2 separate regions of the Homo sapiens genome follow, and region 2 is linked to region 1. The links come from fine-mapping of genetic effects on gene expression. Tissue or cell type: blood mononuclear cells. Region 1 holds a variant in brackets; the other region holds the start of a gene. All regions are shown on one strand. Distances are from middle to middle. Region 1 overlaps SYK (spleen associated tyrosine kinase). Region 2 holds the start of SYK (spleen associated tyrosine kinase).

The links.
Region 2: SYK starts here. The variant in region 1 is fine-mapped to the expression of SYK in blood mononuclear cells (TOPMed, PIP 0.97). The same link has a PIP of 0.9 or more in whole blood.

The regions. Positions count from the first base shown.
Region 1 is chr9:90,843,736-90,848,128 of GRCh38, reverse strand. It overlaps SYK (spleen associated tyrosine kinase), which reads right to left. Exons shown (of 14, transcript NM_003177.7): 2 at 3,814-4,271; 3 at 2,535-2,695. The coding sequence starts at 4,230. Among named protein-coding and RNA genes, the nearest start is that of SYK, 44 kb to the right of the region's middle. The variant C/T (reference allele first, on the strand shown) is at 2,069.
Region 2 is chr9:90,799,403-90,803,795 of GRCh38, reverse strand. It overlaps SYK (spleen associated tyrosine kinase), which reads right to left and starts at 1,977. Exons shown (of 14, transcript NM_003177.7): 1 at 1,903-1,977. RefSeq lists silencers at 1,839-1,998, 2,019-2,228.

The sequences.
Region 1 (4,393 bases):
AGTATGCTGGCAAACTCTCCCTGCTCTCCACAAGCATACACAACCATATTCAAACACTCACAGTATAACACGCCCACTACACTGCAACAAGGAAGGTTTACACACCCAGCAACAGCCAAGAACCCCAGCCAGGTTCTGTAGGAGATGAAAGGTTGTCAAGAGGTGAAATTGCCAGGTGGCAAACCCCTCCAAGGTGTTTCCTCACACTTTCTCTGTTAAAAACACCATAAGATACCCTGACAAGGAGACTTTCCTGGTGCTCATGATGGAGAAAGAGCACTGAAGAGAGAAGAAAAGCTACATCAGTGATGACCACATGTGCTGTGCGGTGTACGTGGTGTGTATTTTCATTGAATCCTCAAGACAGTCACAGACCCAGAGGAGCAGAGCCTGGGGAAAGTTTCCCTTAGTCTAAGGTTCTACAACCATCATGGGAACATGGGTTCTGAAGCTGGGTCTTGCTGCCCAGGCTTAGCTCTGCTCTTCCCTCTCACTAATACCCTGCCTGATGCCAGGCCTGGGCATGGGGTGCTATGCACCATCAGTCCACAGGTGAGCCCTGCAGGTGTGGAGGGAGCACGGGAAGGTGTGGGACTGAGCTGTGGACAACACAAGGGAGAAAGCCTTGGAAGCTATTATCTGGGAGGTTGGCAATTATGGGGTGATAACTGGACAACTGCAATATAAAGTGGAATAAGAACCCAGGAGAATAAGAACCCAGGAATAAGAACCCAGGAGAAGAAGACAACTAAGGAGAGGGTGCTCGATGAAAACACAGAAGCCCAGGCCCCTCTCTCACAGGCCCATGCCTGGTTAGCTCTGACACCAGCTGAATAGGAAGCACGGCAAGTTTGAGACTCTCTTGCATAAACCATAAGCCTCAGTGTCAGGGACATGTGCTGTGAGGACACATGAGATGTCAGTCTGTACAGGGCAGATAGGGAACAAGGCATGTTCATCAAACAAGAGCTGCACCTCCCAGCCTTCTGCATGGGGTTTATATACATCTCCCAGAAAGGAAGGAGAGAGCAAAAGTCATGGCCATGAAGGATGCAACTGCTGTTTTCGGGAATAGACAACTCCGAAAAAAGAAACAGCTTCGTGGCCAAAGAGGCTATGAGCAGGCTTCTTAACCAGCAGAAGTTGGCCAGCCTCATCGTGTGGATTATGCTATTTTGGGTTGACTTCACATGCCAAGATGCTATGTGCATGGTCCCATGACATTCATGTTGGAAATTATTGCTGAGATGGTAAGAAGCCAAACCTCAGCAAAAATAGCCATAGGTGCCTCCACTGAGGGGCAATGTCTTCCCTCCCCACAGCATTCTGCTGCTGGCTGGGGCTGCATCCCACTAAAGACCATCACTCTAGGCACTGCCGCGTGGCAACCTGGGCCACTCTTCCTTCTTCCTTTTTTTTTTTTTTTTTTAAGAGTATTGTGGTCAATTTTTCTTTTCTTTTTTTCTTTTTTTGAGACAGGGCCTCACTATGTTGCCCAGGCTGGTCTCAAACTAGCCTCAAACGATAGTGAGATCATAGTGAGGATGAAGCGATCCTCCTGCCAGGAGTAGCTGGGACTACAGGTGCGTGCCACTGCACTCAGCTAAGATCATTTTTAAAATACAAGGTATGACAGTGAAGTCTGAGGAAATTCCTTTGAATAGATGGACAGGCAGAGAAAACGCTTCTAAATCTAGGAAAAGTTTACGAAGTCGGCTGGGGATTCACCAATTGCCAAACCATGAGGCTGCATCGCTGTTTCTGGTTATGTTTCCAAGGTAAGCATCTCTGTAGGGACACTGAGAGGTGACCAGGGGATCATTTCCCCCAGGGACAACTGCCCCACTGAGCCACCTTGACCAGACCCCCTCGAGGGAACAAGGTTGACACCTCCCAAAGACAGTTCTTTACCTTCTCTGGACAACTGACTGACCACGTTGGCCTGTATCTCAGAACCTTCTACAATTTAGATTTACACTGAACCACTGAGGATAGCAAACAGAACCCAGGATTCAGACAGACCCTCTAATGACTGTGGGCCTAAGGCTGAAGTCTTCAAACCTGCACT[C/T]ACCACTCATGGATGCTACTCCCAGGAACTTTTCCTTAACATCTTTCCTGTTGGCATCTTGTTTCATGTAAAATAGAAGTAAAGTCTGAGATCAAGGGGGTAGTTTGAGTAAAAAAACTGCAGTATTTTAATTTTAGTTGGATAACCACAGAATGTGCTATGCAACCTATAATTTGCCATTAAAAGGAGAATATGGGGCTGAATCACATTTTCTTTAAATATTACATCCCTCGGTGCCCAAAAAGAGTGTTCATTTTAGAGTTAGACTGGGCAAAATAAACACTGGGTCACAAGTGATAGCTTTGGTTAGAAATGTCTTTAGAACAGGCCAGCATGCATGTTGTCAAATGGCAATGCATGGCCTCTTCCCAGGGTCATGTGGGGCCAGTCACAAGGAAGCTGAATTATTCCCAATTGTCCACACAGGCCTGGTGGCAGGAGGTGAGGGGGAAGGCACGATACTCACAGGAACTTTCCATTTGTCTTTGATCCTATCAGGACAATTTGCTCAGATTCTTCCCGAGAGATTTTTCCATGGAACCAAGGCATTTTTTCATGGGCTGTGGTAGCGATCAGCTTCTCCAGCTGAGGCTTCTGACTGATGATGGCCTGCTCCAGAGCCTGACCCTGCCACATGGAGAGCAAAGCAGAGTAAACCATACCGAGGAAAAATGAAAATGATGCAGAAGGCATTTCCAATCTATCTCGAGTCCTGGCATGGTAAAACAGGATCAAAACTTATTCACTCATTCATTCAGTAAATAAAACCAGAAAGACCTTTACACATTACTTAAGTACTTTCAAGTGTATAAATAAAAATAACATGGCCGGGCACGGTGGCTCACGCTTATAATCCCAGTATTTTGGGAGGCCAAGGAGGATGGTTCACTTGAGGTCAGGAGTTCGAGACCAGCCTGGCCAGCATGGTGAAACCCCATCTCTACTAAAAATACAAAAATTAGCCAGGTGTGGTGGCACATGCCTGTAATCCCAGCTACTTGGGAGGCTGAGGCAGTAGAATCGCTTGAACCTTGGAGCCAGAGGTTGCATTGAGCTGAGATCATGCCACTGCACTCCAGCCTGGGTGACAGAGCAAGACTCTGTCTCAAAAAAATAAAAAATAAAAAAATAAACACACATATCCTTTGCTGTGGCAATCCCAACCCTTTCAAAGTTTATCCTGCAGACGTTGCATACAAGTGTAGTATACGATAGGTCTAGAGCAATGTTGTTAGCAGCGTTTATTCATAAACAGCAAATGTGTCCATCAATAGGTACTAGTTAAATAAATTGTGGTGCATAGCAGGTGATACCAGATAGCCAAAGAACGGGTGATGCAACTATATGAGTGTTGACACAGAAAGTTCTGCAAGAGATATTAGGAAGCCATAAAATCAAGTGCCTATCAGTGTGTATGGTAGGACCTTGTCAGATAAACAGAAACCAATCAACACCTATCAATGCCTCTCTGAAAAGGCCCTCCTTGCACTGGGTAACAGTGGTTCCCTGCTGTGGAGAAACCCACACTGCTGGCACAAAGGGACCCACCCTCTCAGCTGTGGCTGTGAAAGAGGAAAGGCTCTTATCAGAGAGAGGCATTTTTTGGCCAAAATTGATGCTTAAGGAGATGGTTGTGTTATTTGGGCACACAGGGCACATAGGCACATGTGTTGCATGTAGCCAGGAAGTCTGTGTGGGGTCACAGGGCCCCCTGGGCCCAGGGAGCAGGACCAGCTGTGGCCCACCTGCAGGTTCCATGTCTGCTTCACATATTCCCTGATGAGGTTTTCCTTCAAATCCTCAAAGGGCCCAGTCTTGGGCTGCACCCCTTGGGGCCGGTTGAAGGGCTTCTTGAGGAGGCAGACCAGGCCATCAGACTCCTGGGAGTGGTAGTGGCAGAGGTCGGCGGGGCTGGCATGGGTCCTGCCACCGGCGATGGCGTAGGTGCCATTCAGCTCCCGCTCGATGGTGTAGTGGTGTGCCTTCCTCCCGTGGGCCACGGACAGGGCGAAGCCACCCAGGTAGTTGCGGCTCTGGCGCAGCAAATAAAGCCCATCACTCATGCCCCCCTGGACCAGGTAATCTTCTGCCTCCTCCCGGGTGATGTTGCCGAAAAAGAAGGGCAGGTGGTTGGCGCTGTCAGCCATGCCGCTGCTGGCCATGCTTCAGGGGCCGGAGGGCACACACCTGCGCAGGTGTCCACCTGGGCAAGACAGAGACAGAGAACTTTGGTGAGGACCCCACGTGGCAGGGAACGTTTGCTAAAACCACTCAAACCCTTTCAAAGTGGAGACAAACCCTCCCATCTCTGAACAAAGGCACTTC
Region 2 (4,393 bases), 44 kb after region 1:
CAATGTCTTTCTCAGTTCTGAAATTTAGATTCTAAATTTTAATTCCAAATTCTGAAAAAGCTTGAATTCCAAAATACGTCTTGGCACAAGCATATTGGATTATAACCATGGGCAAACAATGTGCTAAATAAGTGAAGTTCTACTAAGAAGTCTTCCATTAAAAAAAAGCAGAGAGATTAGACCTGCATTTAGAATATTAAATAGGGGCCTAACAAAGATCAGGGTGATTCATTTCTAAAGTGAAATCTAGCAATAAAATAACGTTTCTACCAATTTCATCTCTCAGGAAAGATAAAGACCTAAAGTATACACCCCATTTTTATCCTAGCTTAAAACTTTCTAGTTATTAAGACTATTATAAAATCCTATTTTATATTTCACTTCAAATACAGAGGCTTAAAAAAAAATCTTCCCACAATCCCTCAGTAGAAAAATCTCTTTTTTCCTAGTGTTCAAATCCAACCTTTTCAAATCCAAGGTAGAAGAGTAAGAGGATAAGACACAAATCAAGTAATTTGATTATAATCTCTCATTCAAATACACTTTAAAGTGCACTTCAAATACAGGGGATAATACAAATCAATTTCTGTTTTAATGCAAGAGTTTTCTAAATACGTTAAAACAAAAGTGCCGTTCAGAACAAAAATGATTTGATAAAATAATTTCAACTGACAAAGATTTCTCACTTAAAACACTTAATAATTTACATGTATTTAAGCCTTTTTGAGAAAATATAATTCTATCTATGCACTGCTCGGACTTTCACTGGGGAGAAGGAGGACATCAATGTATTTAGTTGCATTTAATTAAAATGCTGCCTGTGTGAAGGCAATGAATTTGTCCCTACTAAGACAAAGAAGTCAGATGGTAGAATCAATTCCATTTCTTCCAGGAACTCTTAGGGATTAAATGGTTCCTTTTTTTATTTTTAATACCAAGAATCAGATATGGCACAACATCTTCAACTCTTTTTTTTTTTTACTACACGCTGCAATGCTTTGAACTCTACTTGAGTTCGACTGAATCTTTGCTAAGTCAGGCAAAACTCAAAAAATATTTTGCAACACTGTTTCCAACGTAAAAAAAGATTCAAACTCTCACTTCTCCAATTGTCTTTCTAGTCCTTGAACATTCCAACAAAAGAATGGATTGCATTTATATAGTTTTTAGGTGGGCTTAAGGTTTTGGAGCCACATTGCCAAAAACAGACAAACAGACAAAAAGAAACACCCTTAACTCTTAACTCAAATTTACATTTTACTACATAAAACTTTCTTGCTCTCCAAGTTCATTGGCTAAGTAAATTACTTGACAATGAAAATGTATCCACAAGAGTAATTATGCTAAATTTTAGTAGTGGTTCAGAAGGGTTGTTGTTTGAATGCAACTGCTGTTTCTTTTTGTAGTAAAAGATTTGTCTAAGCTCATAAGACGTCTGGACATTTCTACTTTGAGTAACTTTGATAAACACTGCGGCATTTTCCAGTGGATTCGTGTAAATGGCCAAAGGAAAATGTTCTAGCTCCAAGATCGACTTCCTCGCGCTGTGCCTGATCCCAATCCCGCGTCTCCCGAGGGCCGGGCCGCGACCGCACTTTCCGCGCTCCCTGGGGGCCTGGGCGCCCTGGGGTGCCCGGGTCACTTTCCGCACGGTCTGACCTCCGTCCCCTCCGCCCAGGCCTGAGCCCCTCTCTCCCGGCGCAGCTTCTGGATCCCGAGCGCGGGTAGGTTCAGGAGCGAAGCTGGCGGAACCCACCTGTATTTTATTCACATGGTTTCAGCACTTTTACCTCGGCCGATGAAGGTAGAACAAGAAAGGGCATGAAAGCAGCGCGTCGTTCCCCGTAACCTCCTCTCCTTACCAGAAAGTCCCGGCCGGGTAGGGGACGCGGCCACACCTACCTGCGCCAGGTGAGGCGAGGGCGGGCGCAGCGCGGGGCCACCCGCTCCTCCTCGCTCTCCAGCCGCCGCCGGGGTGGCCTCAGCCGCCGGGCCCGCGGCTCTTCCTCATTTTGGGCAACTTCCTTAACGCGCCCGGGCAGGCGGCCCGCACTTCCTCCCAGTGTCGCGCCCCGCCGCCCTGGCCCGCCCTGCTGACCGCGCCCATGAGCCCGGAGCTGGGCGGGAATCGGCTGAAGCGCCGGGCGAGGCCCGCGGAATCGGCCCAGGCGGCGGCAGGTGTAGAGGAGCCCGGGTGGGGCGCGCCTCTCTCCTCCCGCCGGACAAGGGCCCTTCGCAGGCAGAGAAGGTGGGGCTGCCCGGGACATGGACCGCATCGGTCCCCCTCCTCCCCGCCAGCGCGGTGGCTTCTGTGACTGCCCAGGACCCACAGACACCCAGCGGCCCTTTCCTTTTGCTATGCAGTGCCGGGGAAGAGACTCCACTGCATGGCATATTCCCTGGAGTGTATCTTGGTCACCAAACCAACAAGCTCCAAGCTACTGTGCTGGAGCACTCGGGAGGCCTGGGCAGTGCTGAGAGGGACCCTGTAGGTGAACACCAGACTTCACGGCGCACTAGTGGGCAATGGGGCACGCTGCTTCTGAAGGCTTTAATTATTACAAAAGGCTTTGCTTCCTTCTTACCATGACGGCTCTGACGTCCACAACCAAATAAATTAAACCTATAGCCCTAAGAATGGTTTTGAGATACCCGCCTGATACCCTTCTCCCAACCCATCCCCCTTTTCCTTTTGGACATTCCTCTTTAAAATGTTCCCACAAAACGGCATCCAGACCTTCTTGATAACACTGGTTGGCAGTGCCTGTTTTAAAAAGCTTTACCCTAAGCCAAAATGCGAGAAGCAAAAAAATATATATATAATGTGCTGGATTGTAATTGCCATGGAGAAAATATAGGGATGGGACTATTTACACTTATTGGAGCCCCCAGCCTTTTCTGCTTCCAGGGTTATTGGATTTTCATTCATTTTTGCCATTATTTTTTCTAAACCTGTTAAAAGAAAACTTCAGCAGAATTAAATTTAAAGCAGTTTAATTGAGTAATGAATGATTTGCGAATGGGGCAGCTTCCAGAATCACAGCGGATTCAGAGACTCCAGGGATGCCTCATGGTCAGAACATATTTATAGACAAAAAAAGGGAAGTGACATACAGAAATTGGAGGTAAGGCAGAGAAACAACTGGATTGGTTACAGGTTGGCTTTTGCCTTCTTTGAACACAGTTTGAACACTCAGCAGTGTATGAATGGTTGAAGTATGGCCACTGGGATTGGCCAAGACTCAGCTATTGTTAAAGGCACATACTCCTAAATTAGGTTTTCAATCTTGTCTGCCTATTAAGCTAGGTTACAGTTCATCCACAAGGACTCAAATATAGAATACAGAGTCCTTCTCAGATCATACTTAGGTTGCTTTAACAAACATAAATGGAAGATTTTGATAATGGTTATATTTGCTTATCATTGGACTTAATTTTGCTTCAACTACCCGAAAAAATAGCCATTGTTCCTGAGATGGAGCCTGCAGAATGTCTACAGATGGTTTTCAGAGTTGTCAGCATTATTGGAGATGAACACTAGGGGACCAGTGTGTACAAAGCAAACCCAGCCTGCACAAAGATTGCAGTTTTCTCAGGCTTTCACCTGATGGAAATGAGGGGGAAATTCTAGATCCATCTACAACCTCCTTCCTTTACACTGCTGTGTTCCTTTCCCCCTTTGAGTCACCTTCCGCATTACTTAGTATCATGTAGTAATTTTTTTTTTTTTTGAGACGGAGCCTCACTCTGTTGCCCAGGCTGGAGTACAGTGGCCCGATCATCTCAGCTCACCGCAAGCTCTGCCTCCTGGGCTCACGCCATTCTCCTGCCTCAGCCTCCCGAGTAGCTGGGACTATAGGCGCCCGCCACCATGCCCGGCTAATTTTTTGTATTTTTAGTAGAGACGGGGTTTCACCGTGTTCGCCAGGATGGTCTCGATCTCCTGACCTCGTGATCTGCCTGCCTTGGCCTCCCAAAATGCTGGGATTACAGGCGTGAGCCACCATGCCTAGCCTAAAAGATGGTTCACATTATGTATCATCAGGGAAATGCAAATGAAGACAGTAAGATATCAGTATGGCCCAAATTCGGAACACTGACCGCAGTGAACACTAGTGAGGATGTGAAGCAATAGAAATACTCATTCATTGCTGTTGTGAATGCAAGATGGTACAGCCACTGTGGAAGACAGTTTGGCAGTTTCTTATGAAACTAAACATCCTCTTACAACATGAGTAATTATAAGAGGATTGTCCTTCTTGGTATTTACCCAAAGTAGTTGGTATTTACCTAAAGTAGTACCCAGTAATTGTGCTTCTTGGTATTTACCCAAAGGAGTTCAAACCTTATGTTCACACAAAAATCTGCACACAAATGTTTACGCTGGCTTTAT